Regions from separate parts of the Homo sapiens genome. Here all the other regions are linked to region 2. Evidence: fine-mapped expression QTL. A gene starts in region 2. Each other region holds a variant in brackets. All regions are shown on one strand. Distances are between the middles of the regions.

What was found. PIP is the estimated chance that this variant, and not a neighbour inherited with it, causes the effect. A credible set is the group of variants that fine-mapping cannot tell apart.
Region 1: its variant is the best candidate, but not a certain one, in a credible set for the expression of LGALS8 in lymphoblastoid cells (GEUVADIS, PIP 0.74).
Region 3: its variant is the best candidate, but not a certain one, in a credible set for the expression of LGALS8 in whole blood (INTERVAL, PIP 0.79).
Region 4: its variant is the best candidate, but not a certain one, in a credible set for the expression of LGALS8 in neutrophils (BLUEPRINT, PIP 0.62).

What each region holds. Positions count from the first base shown.
Region 1 is chr1:236,568,954-236,574,227 of GRCh38, reverse strand. It overlaps HEATR1 (HEAT repeat containing 1), which reads left to right. Exons shown (of 45, transcript NM_018072.6): 24 at 1-26; 25 at 1,400-1,503; 26 at 1,674-1,817; 27 at 2,542-2,660; 28 at 2,756-2,877; 29 at 5,104-5,232. Among named protein-coding and RNA genes, the nearest start is that of HEATR1, 33 kb to the left of the region's middle. The variant CTTATTGAATGAGTTCT/T (reference allele first, on the strand shown) is at 2,448.
Region 2 is chr1:236,520,822-236,526,095 of GRCh38, reverse strand. LGALS8 (galectin 8) reads right to left here and starts at 2,114. Exons shown (of 10, transcript NM_201544.4): 1 at 2,035-2,114; 2 at 1-128. The coding sequence starts at 25. It overlaps LGALS8-AS1 (LGALS8 antisense RNA 1), which reads left to right and starts at 1,588. Exons shown (of 1, transcript NR_034040.1): 1 at 1,588-3,027. RefSeq lists a silencer at 1,772-1,821.
Region 3 is chr1:236,743,989-236,748,988 of GRCh38, reverse strand. ACTN2 (actinin alpha 2) reads right to left here. Exons shown (of 21, transcript NM_001103.4): 12 at 4,213-4,363; 13 at 1,214-1,322. Among named protein-coding and RNA genes, the nearest start is that of MTR, 49 kb to the left of the region's middle. The variant TG/G (reference allele first, on the strand shown) is at 2,282.
Region 4 is chr1:236,624,639-236,629,912 of GRCh38, reverse strand. No RefSeq gene overlaps it. Among named protein-coding and RNA genes, the nearest start is that of HEATR1, 23 kb to the right of the region's middle. The variant G/AAAAAAAAAG (reference allele first, on the strand shown) is at 3,011.

The sequences.
Region 1 (5,274 bases), 48 kb before region 2:
AGACTGTCAGCAGTGTTTTTAAAGGGGTAAGCTGCAAACTTCTTGTAATTTTTTTTATTAATGTTTATAGTCTCTTCCAAGGGACACCATGTTTAAGAGTCCTGTATTTTATAGTGCTTGTAAGAGGTCAGATGTTACCATTAACAAAAATCATGGAAAAGTAAGTCAGAGAGAGGCATAAAATAAAAATTTTAAATCTTTACCATTATTTTATTTTATGAAGTATTTGTTGATAATTTTAACCAGATAGGATGTGTAGGAATATGTGTGTGTGTGATCTTTCTCATATTAGACGGAATCTACCTATTCCTTTATGCAAGGAATAGGAATGAGTCAATGGCTCAGTATTGAACTGGGTAACATTATTCTACTTAATTTAAATAGTTGTTTAATGACATATAATGGAATTGAAATTCTGCTTGTTGGTTTTATACGTATATTGAAACCTTGTTATTATCAGAATAGCCACCTGGTTATTCTCTTTTTTGAATATAGAATAATACAAAGTTCTAGTATCTAGATTCAGCAGTTCTCAGAATTTTAACATATTAATCTTTTTTCCTTCTTTTTCTTTGCTGAAATATTTTAAAGTAAATCTCATAATGTCATGCACTTTCATCCCTCTGTACTTCAGTGTGCATCTTTTGAAAAGTGGATATGACTACAATGCCATTAGAAGTAAAAAAAAAAATAATTCCTTGGTATTATCTAATACCTAGTTCATAATCATATTTCCATGGTTATCACAAAAGTATTTTTTATAGTTGTTTTCTTTGAATCAGAATCCAAAGATTTAGTTGTGATGTTAGAACCTTATAAAAAGAGATATCTGGATCCCACCCCATATCTAAAGAATCTCTGGGGCAGTAAATCTGTTTTTGTGCATGTGTGTATATGTCTTATTCCTTCCTAGCTGATTAGAATATACATATCTGATCCGGCACTTGGAAACAATCGGTATGGATGATTCTGTATTGCATTACTAGTTGTCCACTCTAAGGGATGAGCGTGAAATTGAGTGACTCTGGACTGGAGAAGTGATACTGTATCATAATCAAGACAAGTGCAGGGCTGTAACTTGAGACTCCCAAGACAAATTGTATAGAAAGCAAGTGCATGGTAGTAGGAGAGCTTGGTTAAAATGAAAATCTGAAGTTGAATTTATGTTGGCTAGAGCTTTTAGTGTATACTCTTCCCTACTTTGCTTTCTTCTCATTCTGGTTTTTCAAGAAGTCTGTAACAAGGTAGTAGCATCCAATGCTGGGGGGGGTTCAGATGCATATCCAGTAAGTCATTCTTCCCTCTTAATTGAATAAATCCTTCCTAGGGGTTAACATTTATTGCTCTAATTTTATCCCAATGGATTATATCATCAACTCTTCTTCCTTCAATATTTCAGATTTCCGTTAATGCTGAACAAGTCCGAATAGAACTGGAGCCACCAGATAAAGCTAAACCCTTGGGCACAGTTCAGCAAAAAAGAAGGCAAAAAATGCAGCAGAAGTAAGAGCTACAAATGCATTGAGCACATGCTGTTGTTCCCTGACTCTGAATGTTATGAAACCATTGGAACTTTTTGATACTCATCAATTTGCTATAATCAGGCACAATGGTTTTTACTTAGCACATGATAGAGTTTGCTTTTCCAACGTTTTGTCTTCTCCATTTTCCAGAAAATCACAAGATCTAGAATCTGTTCAGGAAGTTGGAGGTTCTTACTGGCAAAGAGTAACTCTCATCCTGGAATTACTGCAGCACAAAAAGAAGCTCAGAAGTCCTCAGATATTGGTGCCAACTCTTTTTAACTTGCTATCAAGGTAATGACACTTGGCTTTGATCTGTGAGAGAATAGGACTCTAATTCTTGCCCATCTTATCTAACATTCTCTTTTCAACATACTCTTCTCTTGTTTAGATAGTCTGTAAAATAAAGCAAGTACTATAGGTGAAATTAAAAGATTGGTTTTAGGTATCCATTGCTGGTGCCCCAAACTGACCTTAGTGTCCTGTGTCATGTAGTAAATGGCCACTCACTGTACAGCCTACTTTCCTCTGAACTTTTCAGTAGCGTGCCTGGGACGTCATTACTTGCATTTCAAGATATAGTGTTGAATTTATATAGATATAGATATGTGTGTATATAGTGTTTGCTATCTAAATATATTTTCATATATATAGATGTATATATTCTATATACGTAGATTTGTGTATGTGTGTGTGTAAATTGAGTATGAATTGTAGCGTGTGCTTTCATGTGAAAGGCAAAGTAATTCTGAAGGTTGTCCTGTAAGATTCCAGATAGGCTAATGGAAAGTGCAATAGAGAGGACGTGGAATTTGACATAGCGCCTGTCTATATGAGAGAAAATTAGAGTTAGAAATCTTATATCTTATTTCTAGACTTGATGTTTAATGATAGTATTTTAGTTATTCCTTATTGAATGAGTTC[CTTATTGAATGAGTTCT/T]GGACAATGGCCATTAATGTAACAATGAATTGTACAACTTTTACATTTCCCATCATTTCTCTTTTGGGTGTCCTGAAGATGTTTAGAACCCTTGCCACAAGAGCAGGGAAATATGGAATACACCAAACAATTAATTCTTAGTTGTCTGCTCAACATCTGCCAAAAACTATCTCCAGATGGTGGCAAAATACCCAAAGGTAGGTACTTTTTGGAAGGAAAGGTTAGAAAAATTATCTACTTTGAGCGTGAGTGTACCTGCCACTTAGGGTTTTTGTCTTTCTCACCATTGTAGATATTTTAGATGAGGAGAAGTTCAACGTGGAGTTGATAGTTCAGTGCATCCGCCTTTCGGAGATGCCGCAGACCCATCACCATGCCCTTTTACTTTTGGGCACTGTTGCTGGAATATTTCCGGTAAGCGTTAATGATATAAGATTTTAGCAGATATTTCAGATATTTTTCTTCCACAGAAATGCACTGGCACCTGTTGATTTTAAATTTAATCAATTAGGCTTTGGAATCTTCCAGCACTGGTGAGACTCTCAGCCCTGCCTCTTCATAGCTGGGACTGTATAAGCCAGTTGATCTTGCTAAGCTTTGGTTTCCCTTTTTATCAAGTGGGAATAATAACCTTCTTCACTGGATTGTTGGGGGAATTCAGTTGGATAATTTGTGGTTAGTACTTAGCATAATACCTGGCACACTATCTATCTAATAAAACAGTAGGTATTGGTGTTAATTGGGAAAAGTTAATATCTCATTTATCCTCAAGTAATCCTCAAAGTAACCTTTAACCAGTGACTTCAGAAAATTAATTTGATCATAAACTATGTCATTTAAAGAAATCATGTCCCTTTTATGAAAAATATCATTTAAACATTTGTAAAGAGATTGAAGCTATTTTCATATTGAGGATTTGAGTCAGAGCTCCTTAACCTGGGGTTCTCCATGAGCTTTAGGGGATCTTAATCTACTGAAATCATATGCAAAGTTTTATCTGTATGGGATTTCTTTTTTTCTTGTAAGAGAGTCTGTGCTTCTCAAAGGGGTTGATAATCCAGAAACAGTTAAGAATCATTAATATTTTTTCTGTTTTTATTGAAATATAGTTCAGATGCCATAAAATTCACCCATTTAAAGTATACAATTAAGTGATTTTAGTATATTCACGAAGTTTCTGTAATCACCACCACGATCTACTTGAAGAGTATTTTCATCACCCCAGAAAAGAAACCCTACACCCATTAACTGTCACTCTTCCTCTCCCTCCTCCCTGCCGCTGCCACCGTCACCACCAGCACCACCACCACCACCATGACCACCACCCTGCTCCTGGCCACTAGTAATCCATTTTCTGTCTCTCTCAATCTGCCTATGCTGGACATGTCATATAAATTGAGTCATACAATATGTGGCCCTCTGTGTCTGGTTTCTTTTGCTTAGCATAATGTTTTTGTTTGTTTGTTTGTTTGTTTTGAGACGGAGTCTCGCTCTGTTGCCGAGGCTGGAGTGCAGTGGCGCGATCTCAGCTCACTGCAAGCTCTGCCTCTTGGGTTCATGCCATTCTCCTGCCTCCGCCTCCCGAGTAGCTAGGACTACAGGCACCCGCCACCACGCCCGGCTAATTTTTTTGTATTTTTAGTAGAGACGGGGTTTCACCGTGTTAGCCAGGATGGTCTCGATCTCCTGATGTCATGATCCGCCCGCCTCGGCCTCCCAAAGTGCTGGAACTACAGGCGTGAGCCACCGTGCCCGGCTGCTTAGCATAATGTTTTTGAGGTTCATTCTTGTTGAAGCTTGAATCCGTATTCCTTTTATGACTGAATAATATTGTTGTATGTGTATGCCACATTTTGTTTATCTGTTCATCGGTTGATGGACATTTGGGTTGTTTCAACTGTGGGGCTATTATAAATTATGTTGCTATGAATATTGTAGACATGGTTTTGTGTGGACATGTTTTCATATCTCCTGGGTATATATACCTAGGAGTGGAATTGTTGGGTCACACGGAATTTTATGTTTAGCTTTGGAGTAACTTGCAAGACTATTTTCCATAGTGGCCACACCATTTTGCTTCCACCAGCAGCCTGTAAAGTTCCCAATTTCTTCACATCCTTGCCAGTACTTGTTACTGTCTTTTTTATCGCCATTCTAGTGGGTGTGAAGTAGTATTTGTGCTTATATTCTTTTCGTATGAATTTTTTCTTTGAAGAAATGTCTTTTCAAATCCTTTGCCTGTTTTTTAATCAGGTTATTTCTCTTTTTATTGGTGAGTTGTAATGAATTGTTGAAATGGAAAATGTTAGCCTGAGCAGGAATATCACTTGTGGCCAGGAGTTCAAGACCAGCCTGGGAGTTCAAGACCAGCCTGGGTAACATAGTGAGACCCCACCCTTACAAAACAGAAAAGGAAAAAAAATTAGCTGGGCAGGGTAGCATGCACCTGTAGTCCTAGCTACTCAGGAGGCTGAGGTGGAAGGATTGCTTGAGCTTAGGAGTCCAAGGTTTCAGTGAACTGTGATCACACAACTGCACTGCATCCCAGCCTGAATGACGGAGCGAGACGCTATCTCTTGAAAAAAAAATTAGTAGAAATTAACAGAAATAAAAAATGTTGATAGTTGTGTTTTCTTTCAGGATAAAGTTTTACACAATATCATGTCTATTTTTACATTTATGGGAGCCAATGTCATGCGCCTAGATGATACTTACAGTTTTCAAGTTATTAACAAGACAGTGAAAATGGTTATTCCCGCACTTATTCAGGTAAGGTCTCTTTATACCATCGTGGGGTTTCTTTTTTTAATT
Region 2 (5,274 bases):
GTAGGTTGTTTAAGGACAACATCATTCTTTTCCAGCTTCTTGTCGATTGGAGTCTCTTCTGTGTATGACCTAAGATTTTAGGCAAGTTTCATTTAAAGGTTACCTGGATTGAAACTGAGGCACTGGCCCTGTGTAAAGTAAAAATAGAGGAAAAGAAAAGTAAGCATGTAGCATTTTTCTTCATATCCTATTTTAAAATTTAAATTATATATTATGTTACTGATATTTACCAAATAATAGAATATTATTACAATCAACGATCTGCCTCCCATTCTTACCAGTGTGCTCATATACTAAATAATTTTGGATTGTGAGTGTAGGAAATATTGACTTAAAAAATACATCAGTAGAAAATTTCTAACATGGAATTTATTATTAAAAATACTAAAATAGGCCAGGCATGGTGGCTCACACCTGTAATCCCAGCACTTTGGGAGGCCAAGGCGGGTGGATCACCTGAGGTTCAGGAGTTAGAGACCAGCCTGACCAATATGGTGAAATCCCATCCCTACTAAAAATACAAAAATTAGCCAGACGTAGTGGCATGCACCTGTAGTCCCAGCTACTCAGGAGGCTGAGACAGGAGAATTGCTTGAACCTGGGAGACGGAGGTTGAAGTGAGCCGAGATTGTGCCACTGCACTCCAGCCTGGGCAACAGAACGAGACTCCATCTCAAAAAAAAAAAAAAATTTAATTAATTAATGGTAAATACTAATCAAACAGTCCCGTACAATTACCAGAGGTATTCATTTAGATTTTCATTTCCATAAAATGAGAATTACAGTATTCACATCATTGGTTTGTTCTGAGGATTGAGTTAATAAAACAGCGAAAGAGTAAGCGCTATGTTAGCTATTATTATTGTGAATAGAAAGAATTGCTCTTCCTCCTCCAATTTAAACAAATCAAAGTAGGGAAAAATCCAATACTTTTAATACTATTAAGATACGGTTTTCTCTGTTGCTTAAAAAAATAATAATCACAGGGCAGGGGAGTGTTGGAAAGCATCAGCCACATTTTTTAAGATAAAAGCACTCATGGACACTACACTACATTTAATAGCTCCAGGAAAAACTCGACTTTAAGCAGAACTAAAGGGGAAATGAAACCAGAGCTTCCTGTATTTTACTTCCAGCAATTCTGTCATTATACTGCACACCAACAATACACACCGATCAAATCTATCACTTTTTCTTTATTAAGAAAAAAAACTGTATCCCTCTTGGTTTACCACCTAAATATAGCCCCATGTCATTAACTTAATTCGTTAGTCAAAACCTCAAAACTCTGGCTCCGTGACTCAATTCAGGAAGTAAGAACAAGAGCAAAAAGAATGGATGCCGAGTTGCCATACACATGTATAATAACAAGCCAGTGACCCAATTTAAGCCATCTGCTTGCATTAAATCACGCAACCCCCGAAGTATCCCCAGGGACAGGTCCCGCCAGCATGAACACTTCGTATGCATCACAAGCAGCCATCACTTAAGTTTCACGTACGGTCAAAGGAAGTCACATGACTTGCGCTTTGCAATGTTTAACACTGCAGTCAAATGACTCGGCATCCTAAAGAGCGTGTTAGAGGCAGGGAACGCAATGGAGGTCACTCCACTGTCACTACAAATTCCGGGAAGGAAACTTCCCCAGATTCCTCCACTTGGAGGTGGCGCTCGGCCTCAGGCTAGGAGGGAACAGGTGAGAAAGCAGCCCAGGTGGGGTGGGTTTGCAGCGAGGAGACACCCCAGGGCAAACAGCCTGACCCCAGCCAGGGATGTCCAAGAAAGGCCGCGACTCCTGATAATCCCTTATGCCCCGGAGCGCCTCGCCTGCAGAGGCAGCGTCCCCGCCACCCAGCCCCGGCTCTGCCGCGGTGAGGACCGGCGGGTCGGGGTGGACTGGACACTGTCCCACCCATCAAATGGTGATTTAGGAGCCGTGACATCCGAATGCCATCCTCCACTGGCGAGACCCTCAGAGCAGCCACGCCTCTAGCGACTGCCCCGCCACCCGAGGCCGGGGGTCGCGCGACTCACCCAAAGACTGGTGTTTCAGGCGCTCCACGGAGCAGGTTGTTTGTCAGCAGCTAAGTGCCGTCAGGGTTCCCGGCTCTGGCGTCCGTGGGCGGCTACGGGAAGCGACAGGAGTCAGTCCTCGTTCACTTCCCGGCTCGCGCGCCTCACTGCTGTGGTCTCCCCACCCTCCCCGCGCCCCGCCTTCTGTGTCTGGGGCGTCCCTGGCGGCTCTGCTGGGTTTTGGACAGGGACCCGCCGCTGATCGCCACCCAGCTCGGCCTCCTGCACAGCCTCTGGAGCCTTGGACCGCGACTGGCTTGCTGTGGGACGAGCACAGAGGGATAAGGACAAAGAATGTGTCCTGGGTGGATCTGGCTGCCTTTGCCCGGAAGGCGGAGTGGGGTGGGAGGTGGTAGGAAAATGGGAAGGAAAGAAAAGAAAGGTGGGCCGACGTCCACCTGGCTGTTCCAGGCCTCCAGGTCTAGGAGGGAGGGCGCTCGGGGCTGGGACTTTTCAGGACCAGGGTGGTCACCGCACAGGCCCCGCCTGCCTGGACCAAGCGCTGGCCTTCCCGGGGCGCCCAGGTCCACGGGGTCAACGCCAGGGTTTTCTCAGCTTCCTCGTCTGCCTCGGATCCAAGTCCAGACAGTGCCAGAAGAGACTTGGAGGCGCTGCTTTTTGACAGTACACACCTCTGTATGCAGGTGAAACGGTGGGGGAAGGGTTCAGTACGCTGGACTGTGCCCAGCCCAAGCTCCCCATCCGTTAGTGATAACTTGGACTCGCAGCCACTCCGCGTCACTCGCCAGTTATCCTGCGTGTGGGTGTTTTCTCCAAATTGGACACTTAGGGAACAGTTTAAGCAGTATGGAGCACAATTCTGTGCCTATTAGATGCTCTTAAATACCCGACTTCTCAGGGCCCTACACTGACTGATAGTTTGACCTATTGGCTGTAAACACACCAGCCAGAAATACAAATAAAGTTAAACAAAGTCATGTCAGCCACTTGGAATGGCTGGCTGCTTACTGTTTATTTTCTGTTAGGGACCTCAAAGTTCTCATCTTCTCTACTTGGCTTTTATCCACATTTGTTTGGAAAGATATATTTTAGTGTCATTAACGTGGGCTTTCTCCTCCCTGGCTTTTGTTTTCATTATTTTTTGTTTTAATTGAGGAATTCATTACAAGTCCCATAACTGGGAACTCATGTTCTGATTCACTGTTGCTTTTCTCTCCTCCTTACCCATTTTCCAAGCCTGATGCACTTCTCAAGATCCAATCTGAATAGGTGAATTTACCCTTGACATACACTGCCTTGGATTTATAGCTGTCTTTTGGTATGTGTTGTGTGTTTTATCTATCCAACTCGACTGTAGTTTGAGAAAAGGAACTTGTCTTATACAGTCTCCAGTGCATAGTGTAATGCTTTGCATAAAATAGATATCAATGTTAGGTTGAAATGTTAGATTATTGATAAAGTCAGGAGCAATTGAATATCTTCACAATTCTGCCTGAGTCTCCCCCCAGCCCCGCCACTTTGAGACAGGGTTTCCCTCAAGTGATCCTCCCACCTCAGCCCCAGGAGTAGCTGGGACTATAGACGCACACCACTATGCCCAGCTAATTTAAAAATTTTTTTTTGTAGAGACAGGGTCCACTGTGTTGCCCAGGCTGGTCTCAAACTCCTGGGCTCACAATATCTTCCTGCCTTGGCCTCCCACAATGCTGAAATTACAGGCATGAGACACCAAGCTGGGCCCTGAGTCAACCTTGTACTTCTTTACAAAGCTAAAATAAGTTGAAATAAGTACACATAAATGCTGTGTTTCTTTTGTAAGTCATATTTAGGTGCAAACGGGGCTGAGTGAAAGGGCCAGAGAGCAGAGTTAACAAAGAAAATCTGGATTAAAATGTTCATAAATCCTAAGAACTTATTCCTAGAAATATCTCCCTCATTTGGCACTGTTGTTCAATTAGCCCAGTGTGTTATTTTAAATAAGCAAATATTCACTGAATGCCTATCATGGCCAGGCACAGCAGTAAAGAATACTAGCATGCAAAGGACCTCATGGGCCCTTCTAGATAGAGTCCCACATCTCTTACATTATTACTGCAGTATCCTAATCGGTCTCCCTATATTTGCCCTTGCCCCTCTGCAATGTAGTCTCAACACAACAGCCAGAGAAGTCATGACAAAACATAATTCAGATCATGTTAATCCCTTACTAAAACCTACTTTTTTTTTTTTTTGAGGCAGTCTCACTCTGTTGCCCAGGTTGGAGTGGAGTACAGTGTTACATTCTCAGCTCACTGCAGCCTCTGCCTACCGTGTTCAAGTGATTCATGTGCCTCAGCCTCCTGAGTAGCTGGGACTACAGGTGCGCGCCACCATGCCCAGCTAAGTTTTGTATTTTTAGTAGAGATGAGGTTTCACCATGTTGCCCAGGCTAGTCTTGAACTCCTGACCTCAAGTGATCCGCCCGCCTCGGCCTCCTGTAACCTGGGATTGCAGGTGTGAGCCACTGCATCCGGCCAACCGTCTACTAATTTTTGCTCATTCTTTGAGTAAAGATCCAGTTCTTACACGAGCACTTCCTGATCTGCCCGAATCCTCACACACTGTGATTTCATCTCCTACTACTTTCCTTCTCACTTTTTCTGCAGCAGCCACAGCGACTTTGCTATTCTCCTAGCAGGCCTGTCACACTCCCATCCTAAAATCTTTACTCAATATTTCCTTTTCCCTTTTCAAGTCTACTCAAATGTCAGTTCTCAGTGGGGCCCTTCCTGACCACCAATATTTAAAATTGCAAACACTCTCCCAAAACACACTCATACACACTCCCTAGCAACTCTTCCTTGCTTTATTTCTGGCTAACATTTGTCATGCTAATATACTATATAAGGTGCCTTTTTATTTTATGTTACTTCACCCATCATAAGACTATAAACTCCATGAGGGCAAGGAGTTTTGATTGTTCTTGTTTCGAGGAAGCTTATACTCTAGTTGAGGACACATACAGTGATGTGTTTTAGAGAAGATTAAATTGGGAGCACCTGAGTGGCAACCTTAGTTGGGTGACAAGGAAAGTCTCTCAGAGGAGTCAAAGTTTAAGCTGCTGGTGAGTGAAAGAAAGGAAACAGCCATATGAAGATGGTGGGGAAGAGCATTCCAGCCTTAGCGAGCAGCTGCTGCAAAGTCCCTGAGGGTCTTGAGAATGCATTAAATGTGTTCAGGAAACAAAGGCCACCAACCAGT
Region 3 (5,000 bases), 220 kb before region 2:
CCCGATGCTCAAACAATTAGGCTGAGCCCTGCAGGTCTCTGAGGTGCCTTCTGAATCAAAGAAGGATTTCATAACATCCAGAGCAGCCTCATTTTTAAAGTGTCTAAAGTACTTCACTACATGCTACTTTTCTGAAAACTGAGACTCCACATACGGCATACTGTAACTTGCTTTCAGCTAAAGCAGGACTTTATAAGAGGACCTGATTCCCTAACTGTGCCAGATTAACAGAAAATGCAGGGCATCTTCCACGTTTTAGAGTCAACATGTGCAGAGAAGTTGTGTGCCTTTCCCAAAGTCACCTACCTAATGGAGAGAGAAGGAACTGCAGGTTCATGCTCTCAAATCCTCATTCAGGATTTAACACAGATCACCTCTTGCCTTTCTGGGCATATGAAAGCACAAGATTTCAAGCAACAGGATGATCCTGCGCTTGTTTCCCATGGCAGACAAGTGGGGGCAGAAGGGGAAGGCATCTCCGTAGCTTTAAGCCTTCCATAATTAGGTTCATTTTTCCCTCCTGTTCTAAAATGTTTTGTGCTGTCTCTGTTACATGTCTGGTCTTTCTCTTGACATCTCTTTCTTTAAGCAGATATGTCACAGCCATTTGGCATTTGGGAAGCTTGATATTGGGTTATCTCAAAAGTATCATCAGAGTCAAGCAGAAAAGACTCAGGGAACTGGTAAACTGCTGGTTTCTCTCACGTGGGAGATGTCTTCCATGGTTAAAGACAATTAGGGGCAGTTAAACACAAGATACCCACTGTGTCTTACACTTAGTCTTACACTTAAATAAGGCCAAATTCGTCCCAATTCTGTTTCCTATCAATGTACTCACTTCAACACTTGGTTCCATCTTCCCTTTGCACATCTCTGATTTCCCGACTCACTCACAGCTCAATTTACTCAGGTAGAAGGACTTTTGGAAACGTACTGTTACTACCAGATACAAAGTAGATTTATGCCGTAATCTCATCACCCCTGGATTTTTTAAAATTGAAAAATATACTTCGCTGCTGTCTGGATAAATTACAGCACAAAGCTCCCAACTTCCCATTTCCCTCTTTCTTCCACTTTTCATGTTTTCTTTAGAGGTTCCTTTCACTAGGCAACCTGTTTCATGCCACAGAGAAACACACAATGAATACCAGTGATTTAATTAAAGAGCTTCTATTAAAAGATTTCATGTCAACAAGTGGCTTCAATACTTCACCTCTAGGGCTTCTCTCCTCTTCTGAGTAAGCGTTCCCAGTCGGTCCCACTGGTCACAAATTTTCTGGCACCGATCATTGACATTCACAGCGTCGTGATAGTCCAGTTCACTATTAAAAGTGAAAATAAATAAAGATTAACTTTCCCAGATGATGAGAGAAAATGAACATGGGCTAAAAAAGAAAAATAACAGGGAAGTTTAAAAACAAAAACATCTGAAATGTATCCACATGGACATAGAGAGTGGGCTGATAGACAGTGGAGGCTCAGAAGGGTGAGGGGGTGGAAGGGTAGGTGGATGATGAAAAATTACTTAGTGTGATTTCATACAATGTATGTTATTTGGGTGATGTCTACCCTAAAAACCCTGACTTGGCCACATGTAGCAAAACTGCACTTGTGCCCCACCCCACCTACATTTATACACATAAAAGAAATAAAAAATAAAAATCTGATAGAGAACTGGGATGGTATTTCAGGGTTTTGTTAACTGTCATCACTGTAAACATCACTCCTCTCAGATAAATCACAAGAAGAATTCATAAAACTTTCGCTGGCCAACAGATTTCTAAACAGAGAGAACCGTTGTCTTCTTAATGCCGCAGGCTCAATTTATTTCCCCTTCCTTTTCTTGGAGAGGCCCCCAGAGAGCATTATTTCTAAGTGGCAATGTCCCTATGAGTGAAGGTCGGAAGACATCACTCTCTGACCTGGAGGACAGTCCTGTGGGCCAGGATGCAGCCACAGTGACTGGGGAGGGAAGAGTCAGCCTGCGCCACATTGTGTCCTTGGCTTCCCTAGAAGGGCACTTGGCCTCACCACTGGGTAGAGTATCAGGTCCAGAATGGCACCATGACTTTATCTAACATAGCGGGATTTCTGAAATGGGGCCGAACTGAGCCCTTCCACTTAGAGACAGAAAGGTTCTGACTCATCTAATGCCACTAGAGTGACAAGCAAGGGCAAAATGATTTCTCACTAAATCCTTACTTTTCCTTGCCAGATCCATCTATGCATTCTACCTGGGGTCTTTCTGTGCACACCACTGAAGCAATTTTTTTTTTTTTTT[TG/G]AGACAGGGTCTTGCTTTGTCATCCAAGCTGGAGTGCAGTGGGGGTGATCATACGTTATTACAGCCTCAGACTCTTAGGCTCAAGTGATCCTCCTGTCTTAGGCTCCCAAGTAGCTGGGACTACAGGCATGTGCCACTACACCCGGCTCTTTTCAAAAATTTTTTAGAGATGGAGTCTTGCTGTGTTGCCAGGCTGGTCTCGAACTCCTGGTCTCAAGCAGTCCTACCTCCTCAGCCTCCCAAAGTACAAGGATTACAGGTATAAGCCACTGCACCCAACCTAAAGCAAATTCTTAACTAGAAGCTTAACCCAGTACCTCCAGGGATAACAAGTTTGAATCCTGTACAAAACTTAATCACCTTTTTCATTCAGATATAAATCAAGAACCATGGAAGTTTAAAGACATCTTCAGGAGGCTGCTTCAAAAACAGTCCAGGATTAGACAACTTTGAAAAGTCCCCTCCTACCCTACCAAATCCATTTTCTTAAAGCTTAAGTTCGTTTTCTTTTTTTTTTTCTTTCTTTTTTTTTTTTTTTTTTGAGATGGAGTCTTGCTCTGTCGCCCAGGCTGGAGTGCAGTGGCCTGATCTCGGCTCACTGCAAGTTCCGCCTCCCGGGTTCACACCATTCTCCTGCCTCAGCCTCCTGAGTAGTTGGGACTACAGGTGCCCGCCACCATGCCTGGCTAATTTTTTTTTGTATTTTTAGTAGATACGGGGTTTCACCGTGTTAGCCAGGATGGTCTTGATCTCCTGACCTCGTGATCAGCCCACCTCAGCCTCCCAAAGTGCTGGGGTTACAGGCGTGAGCCACTGTGCCCAGCCAGAACGTGGCAGTTTTAAAACGTAATATATTGAAATAAATTTTTATTATTTAATTTTTGAAGTTACCATTATGTGACAGGCTCTAAACATTCTACAGATGTATCAGTGATTATAATGGTGGGGAAAGGAGTAGGAAATAAAATGTTGTCTTTATTACAAGGGAAAAGGACCTGAAGAAAGCTCAGAAACACGGCATGGAGGCTCTTCTCCCTGAGGGCAGCCGCACCCCAGGGCTCACACTACACAGAGCGGGAACTGAGAACATTCACTCCGTGCCAAATCCAGCCTAGGCTCAAATGTCGTGTCAGTTCTTCCCATAAAACCAAACGCATGAAAGTGAAACAGCACTTAGGGGATGATAAAGCAAAGTGGGGTCCTGACGTCTCTTCTGCACACGTGAGGCAGTGCCCACTTTTTTGTTTTATTTTGTTTTGTTTTTTGTTTTTTTGAGACGGAGTCCCGCTCTGTCGCCCAGGCTGGAGTGCAGTGGCGCGATCTCGGCTCACTGCAAGCTCCGCCTCCTGGGTTCACACCATTCTCCTGCCTCAGCCTCCCGAGCAGCTGGGACTACAGGCACCCGCCACCAGGCCCGGCTAATTTTTTGCATTTTTAGTAGAGACGGGGTTTCACCGTGTTAGCCAGGATGGTCTCGATCTCCTGACCTCATGATTCGCCCGCCTCAGCCTCCCAAAGTGCTGGGATTACAGGCGTGAGCCACCGCGCCCGGCCAGTGCCCTCTGTTTTGCTTGGTTTTATGTTGATTTCAGGACAGGCTATATTCTGCTTCTTGCACCTGGCCTGGGTGAGGCCGCCTTCCCATAGCTTTCTGGGCCCCAATATTCCAGACTTATTTCTCATCTTGCTGGAAGCGGAGCTGCCTGTGCTGAGGGCCGGGGTGCTGCTGGATGGTAGGACATAGGGATTCTACCACAATCTAAGAACCAAAATCTGTTTCTACATTTAAAGAAACAAGGAGAATCCCTGCACAGAGTGCCTCCAGCGTGGTTCCCTCTGCGTTTAGTCAGGAAAGGCAAGGCAGGCCTTTCTCTCCCCTCTCTGTGGAATCCCAGGGGCTCCCGGGAGGACGGAGGGCATCTGCACATACTTGAGCTCCTGCGCGATGGCTGCGATCTGCTCCACGCGGTCCTGGTGCGCTGCCAGGTCGCTCTCGAACGCCTCGTGCTTCCGCAGCAGAGCCCGCACCTCTGTCAGCGACGCCGACTCGTAATCCTTCTGCAGCAAGATCTGCTCTTTGCCTGCAAAGGTGGTAGCAAGAAAGTATGAATATGCTGAGGGCACAGCGGCTTCCTCATGCCAGCCACATTCTCAGGGAGCGGTGAGATTCCAAAGAACCAAGAGAAGGGGACAGAGAGGGGCAGGACTGAAGATGCAGGCCAGGGTTGTGATGGAATTCAGGCTGTTACCTGCTGAGGATGCCCCAGCCCCTTCTCAGTTTTGAAAGCTCGTGTCTCCAAATAAAGGGGAAAGGAGAGCATGCTGAGTGCGTTTTTAGAAAAAAACCAATTTGTAGTCTTCATCATTCTAAGTCACAAGTATCTGATTCCTGCATGATCCTCAGTTAAGTTACTAATTATTCACTCCCAAGAGCTACCAGGGATGCTTAGATAAAACCCCGGTGCTCCATTTGTCTATCCATGAGTCCTACCCCACCCTAGTTCCTTTTGTTTGAAAGCTATACTCTGTGTGCTTAAATGGAGCCTGTGCTTTGTTTTTCCTGATAATAAATATTAGAAATTTTCCTCTCTGACCCTCCACTTACATTTTCCCATATAAATATTTCTTAAATCCAGTAACTGCTGTGGTCACGAGTGGATCCACATTTATCCCCTGGCTAATGACCTTTAAGAATTCTATGAAATTGGAAGTGGAAAG
Region 4 (5,274 bases), 100 kb before region 2:
AAAACTGCCAGGTATAGATAGCATCATTGCTATTTTCACTCTACTGTTCAAAGTGCCTCCCAGGGCCAACATTCTTTCAAGGAGGGGGAAACTAGACTCCATCTCCTGGAGTATGCACAGATAGGAGAAATTGTCAGCAGTCATATTTGTGGGACAAACTACTCTGTCGGGTCCAGCCCACTCTCTGCATCTCTTCTCTCTCCTCGCGTGATGCAGATTTGTCCTACAGAATTTTGAACATTTCTAGCCCAGGACTCAGGAAGTCACTTGAGTGCCTTTTAATATGTGTTCAGCTCTGACTTTGACCCCTGGTTCACATTAGCGGGTTTCTATATTGTTCCTGAGACCCAAAGCTTGAACTCTATACTGCAGGGGCAGTAACTAAATCTCCTTCTTGCACCTGCTGAGGTAAAATGACTATTATTATTAATAGCAAATATTTGTTAAACTTGTTCTCTGTACCAAGCAAACCTGGAGAGTTTCATATTACCTTCATTTTGCAAATGAGAAAACTGAGATCCAGAGAGGTTGGTTAGGTGGCTCATGGTAGTAAGTGGCAGACTGAGCCCGACCAGCTCAGATGGTCTGGGCTAAAACCTGTCTATGTAACTCCCAAACTCTTCCTGGGTTGTGGTATTGCATAACTCTCATCAGTCTCCCTTACCTGAAGTGGCTTCTAACTCCTGACCCCTGCTTGGATTTTGGGTCATGCTACATGCCAAGATGCTTCGTACTGCTGATCCCATGACTTCTTGCCTTTTAAAAAAATTAAGTGCATATTCTACTATAATACAGCATACATACAGAAAAGTATATATAGTTTATAGCCTGATGGTTTTCACAAAATGAACATACCTGTGTATTTACTGCCCAAATCAAGAAACAGAACATTCCCGTGACCCCAGAAACCCTTATGCCTCCTCCCAGTAACTACCTATCTCTGCTGCACAAATTATTCCCTTCATTATAGATTAATTCTTACTGGGTTTGAATTTTATATAGATAGAATCGTGCTATTTGTATTCCTTTGCATCTGACATCTATTGCTTGATATTAGGCTTGTAAGAGTCTGTCATATTGCTGTGCGTTGCAATGGTTTGTTTGTTCTCATTGCTGAATAGTATTCCACTGTATGACAGTTTCACAATGTATATGTTTATTCTTCTGTTGATAAACATCTGCATCGGAAGCAGATTATGCTATTACAAAATATGCTGCTATGGACATTCTCAAACATGCCTTTCGGTGTTCGTACGCACACATTTCTCAACATTTCTGTTGAGTATATAGCATACCTGAGAGTTTCAGTAATGAGAAAACAATAATTTTACAGAATATTTGTACCAATTTGTACTTCCACCAGCAGTATAACAAAATGTCAGTTGTTCCACATCTTTACCAACATTTGGTATTGCCTGTCTTTTTAATATTAGCCATTCTGGTGGGTGTGTAGTGAAATCTCACTGTGGCTTTCATTTGACTGGTTACAAATGCTGTGGAGAACATACTTATATGTTTATTAGACACATTCAGATATTGTCTCTTTAAAAGTGCTTGTTCAAGTCTTTTGTTATTTTTTTCTATTGAATGTCTATTTTTTCTTTTTGATTTGAAGCAGTTCCTTAAATATTCTGCATATGAGTCATTTGTCAGATACATATGAATTACAAATATTTTCTCTGTTTTGCAGTTACTATTGCACTAATGATGTTTTTGGTAAACAGCCCATCACTACTCCTACATTGCCAGTTGCTAGACTCTGCTTCCCAATAGGGTCTCCCCATTTCCTCTGGGCCCTCTCTAATGCTGACTGCTGCCTGTAATCTTGCCTTCAGGGCAATGTCCCCTGCCGGCTGCACTGAACACCTTTAGAATCCAGTGCACCTGCTCCTGTCCTTCCAGGGCTGGTCCTGTCCTAGTGGGCAGATCTGGTTCCAGGTTCTGGCACCTTCCAGTCTCCTCAGGCCTCCCTGCAGTTAACTAGCTGTGCCCAATCGTGTTCTGAAAATAAGTTCAGGATGTCCAAACAATTGACTTATAAATGAACTTTTGGAACCCATGACTTTTTACACCAGAGGAGTCCTACACATTCTATTTATTTCTGCCTTAGTCACCTAGGATCAAGTACCTCCTGTAGCCAAAGGGGACTGGGACATTAAAATCATGATTGTGAATCACCAAGACACCCGTGCAAATTAGTACTAGCCCATCAATCCACAGAAGAAAATATACCATGGGAAAATGAAATCCTTATGCCAAATCGAGACATTGAGAAATTCAGCAAATAATTATTGAGTGCCTGATATGTGTCAGTCACTGTTCTAAATATTGCAGAAGTAACAAAAAGGAAAAAACCCAGACACCAATCTATGCACACATGGCACTCATTTTAGATGGAGAAACAGGTAGTAAACAAGCTAAATAAATAACACAGTTAGTATGTTAGGTAATGAGTGCTAAGGGAAGGGATATAGGAGTGTCCGATGGTGGTAATGGGTTGTTAGTAATTTTAGAGGGACTTCCAGGTAAGAGTTCACCAAAAAGGTGATGTTTGAGCAAAGACTTGAAAAAAGGAGATAGCTATGACATTATCTCAGGGAAGAGCATCGAAGACAGAAGGAACAGTGAATTCAAAGGCCCTGAGGTGAAAACATGTCTAGTGTTTGGAAAAACAGCAAGCAGAACCAGGCACAGTGGCTCATGCCTGTAATCCCAGAACTTTGAGAGGCTAAGGCAGGTGGATCACTTGAGGTCAGGAGTTCGAGACCAGCCTGGCCAACATGGTGAAACCCCGTCTCTACTAAAAATATGAAAAAAATTTGCTGGGTGTGGTGGCACACACCAGTAATCCCAGCTACTCAGGTGGCTGAGGTATGAGAATCAGGTGGCATGAGGTATGAGAATGAGGTATGAGGTGTTGAATCCGGGAGGCAGAGGTTGCAGTGAACCGAGATTGCACTACTGCACTCTAGCCTAGGCAACAGAGTGAGACTCCATCTCAAAAAAAAAA[G/AAAAAAAAAG]GAAAGAAAGAAAAAGAAAATCAGCAAGCATCCAAGAGATGTAGATGGAATTATAGTTATAGCTGTTATAAGAAGAGCAGAAAGCAATAGGGGAAGAAGTCAAAGAGGTATAAAAGAGGTAAGGTCTTATAGGTCATTGACCTTCAATATGATGCAGAGAACATACTTACATGTTTATTAAACACATTCAGATATTGTCTTTTTAAAAGTGCTTGTTCAAGTCTTTTGCCCATTTTTTTCTATTGAATGTCTATCTTTTCTTTTTGATTTGAAGCAGTTCCTTAAATATTCTGCATATCAGTCATTTGTCAGATATACATGTCAGCTGTGCTAATTTGGTATCGTGGATCTCAGAGGCCAAGTTGCCATATGTGTAGAAAAGAAAGATGGCTGTCATTTGAGTTGTTAAGAACAGCATGCTGCAATACCAAAACATCAAGCTGTACATCTCAAATATGTATGATTTTCATATGTGAATCACATCTCAATAAAGCTGTTAGGAAAATAAAATTACCATTAAGTTTAAAAAAAAAAGAAAAAAAGAAAAAAACAACCACAGTCGGGGCAAGGGCCATGTTACTAGGGCCAGGGATTTGGCCAATGAAGCAGGAACATAGAGATCCTAGGTCCATAAGGAAAAGAAGATTCAAGGAAGGCCAGGACATGGGAGGGAATGAACAAACTCCAGTCCTAGAGGTTTAGCAGAGACTAGCTGGCTTCTTGCAGTGAATTAATAAATGAGAAAAAAATCTGAGATCACAATAAAAGATCTTTACTGGTGCAAGGGTCACTTCTCACCGCTGTTTGACTGCTTTGGGTCATTCTTTAGTACCTTAAGTTTTTTATATTTTGTGAAGATTTTACTATTTTTTATCTGCAAGAGAGTAAGTTCAATCAAGCTATTGCACCATTACTAAAAGTGAGGCTTCTTTGACTATTTTTTTTAAGAGTTGGGGTTTGCTCACTCACCCAGGCTGGAGTACAGTAGTGTGATTATAGCTTACTGCAGCTTCGAACTCTTGAGCTCCAGGGATCCTCCTGCCTTAGCCTCCTGAGTAGCTAGAACCACAGGCACACTCCACCACGTCTGGCTAATTTTTAAAAATTTTTGCAGAGACTGGGTCTTTCTATGTTGTCCAGGCTGGTCTTGAACTCCTGGCCTCTAGTGATCCTCCCACCTCAGCCCCCAAGTAGCTGATTACAGGCAAAAGCCACCATGCCTAGCTCACTTTTACTATTTTTTACAATTCAAGATGTTGTCTATCTTTTTCAGCTACTCTATCCTGATTAATAAATGTTCTGTTAGTTTTGACTTATATTCTTCTTTTTGACTGGTCGTTCTCCTTAAATAAGATGTATTTTTCTTTGTTGGCTCCCTGAAGGCTCTGGTCTTATATTGAATTACCCAAGTTGGCAGTACTTTTCATGTAATGAAAGCTAAAGCTGTCTCTACTCCTGTGGTTGGCAGTGTAGAAGCAGGCAAGTTAACAATTCCAGTAAGGATCATGGACAAAGTCTTCTGTTCTGTTTCTTCTTACTTTCCTTGTCACAGGATCAGTAAACACTCGAGGCATTGTTAAACTTTATATTAGTTTTTTCTTTTGCTGTGTAACAATATTATCACAAACTTGCTGGCTTAAAACAACATAAACTTATTATTTCACAGTTTCTGAGGTTCAGGATTCCAGACACAACTAGACTGAGTCCTCTGTCTTAGGGCCTCACAAAATTGTGATCAAGATGTCATCTGGGCTGCAGGCTTTTCTGAGACTCGACTGGGGAAGGATCTGCTTCCGAGCTCATGTGGTTGTTAGTAGCATTTGTTTCTTTGTGGACCATTGGACTAAAGGCCTCTGTTTCTTGCTGGGTATTAGCTGAAGGAGTTCCTTAGGTCCTTGCCATATTAATCTTTCCAGAATCATTTGTTTTCTCAAAGCCAGCAAAGTAGAGTCTCCTGGAAAGATTGATGTTACAATCATATGTAATGTAATCACTTACATGTAATCACACATATTCTGTCATGCAGGCTGTATTCTGTGGATTGAATCAAGTCGCAGGTCCCACCTACACTCAAGGGAAGGGATTAAATCCAGGAGGCAGGGATTACGGAGGTCATTTTTAGAATCAATATGCCACAGTCTGCCCTGATTCCCAGTGATTCATGCCTCTCCCACATGAAAATATATTCACCCCTCTTAAGGTTCCTAAGAGTCTCATCCCACTGCAATGTGTGCTTGAATTCAGAATTTCAAAATCTAAATAAG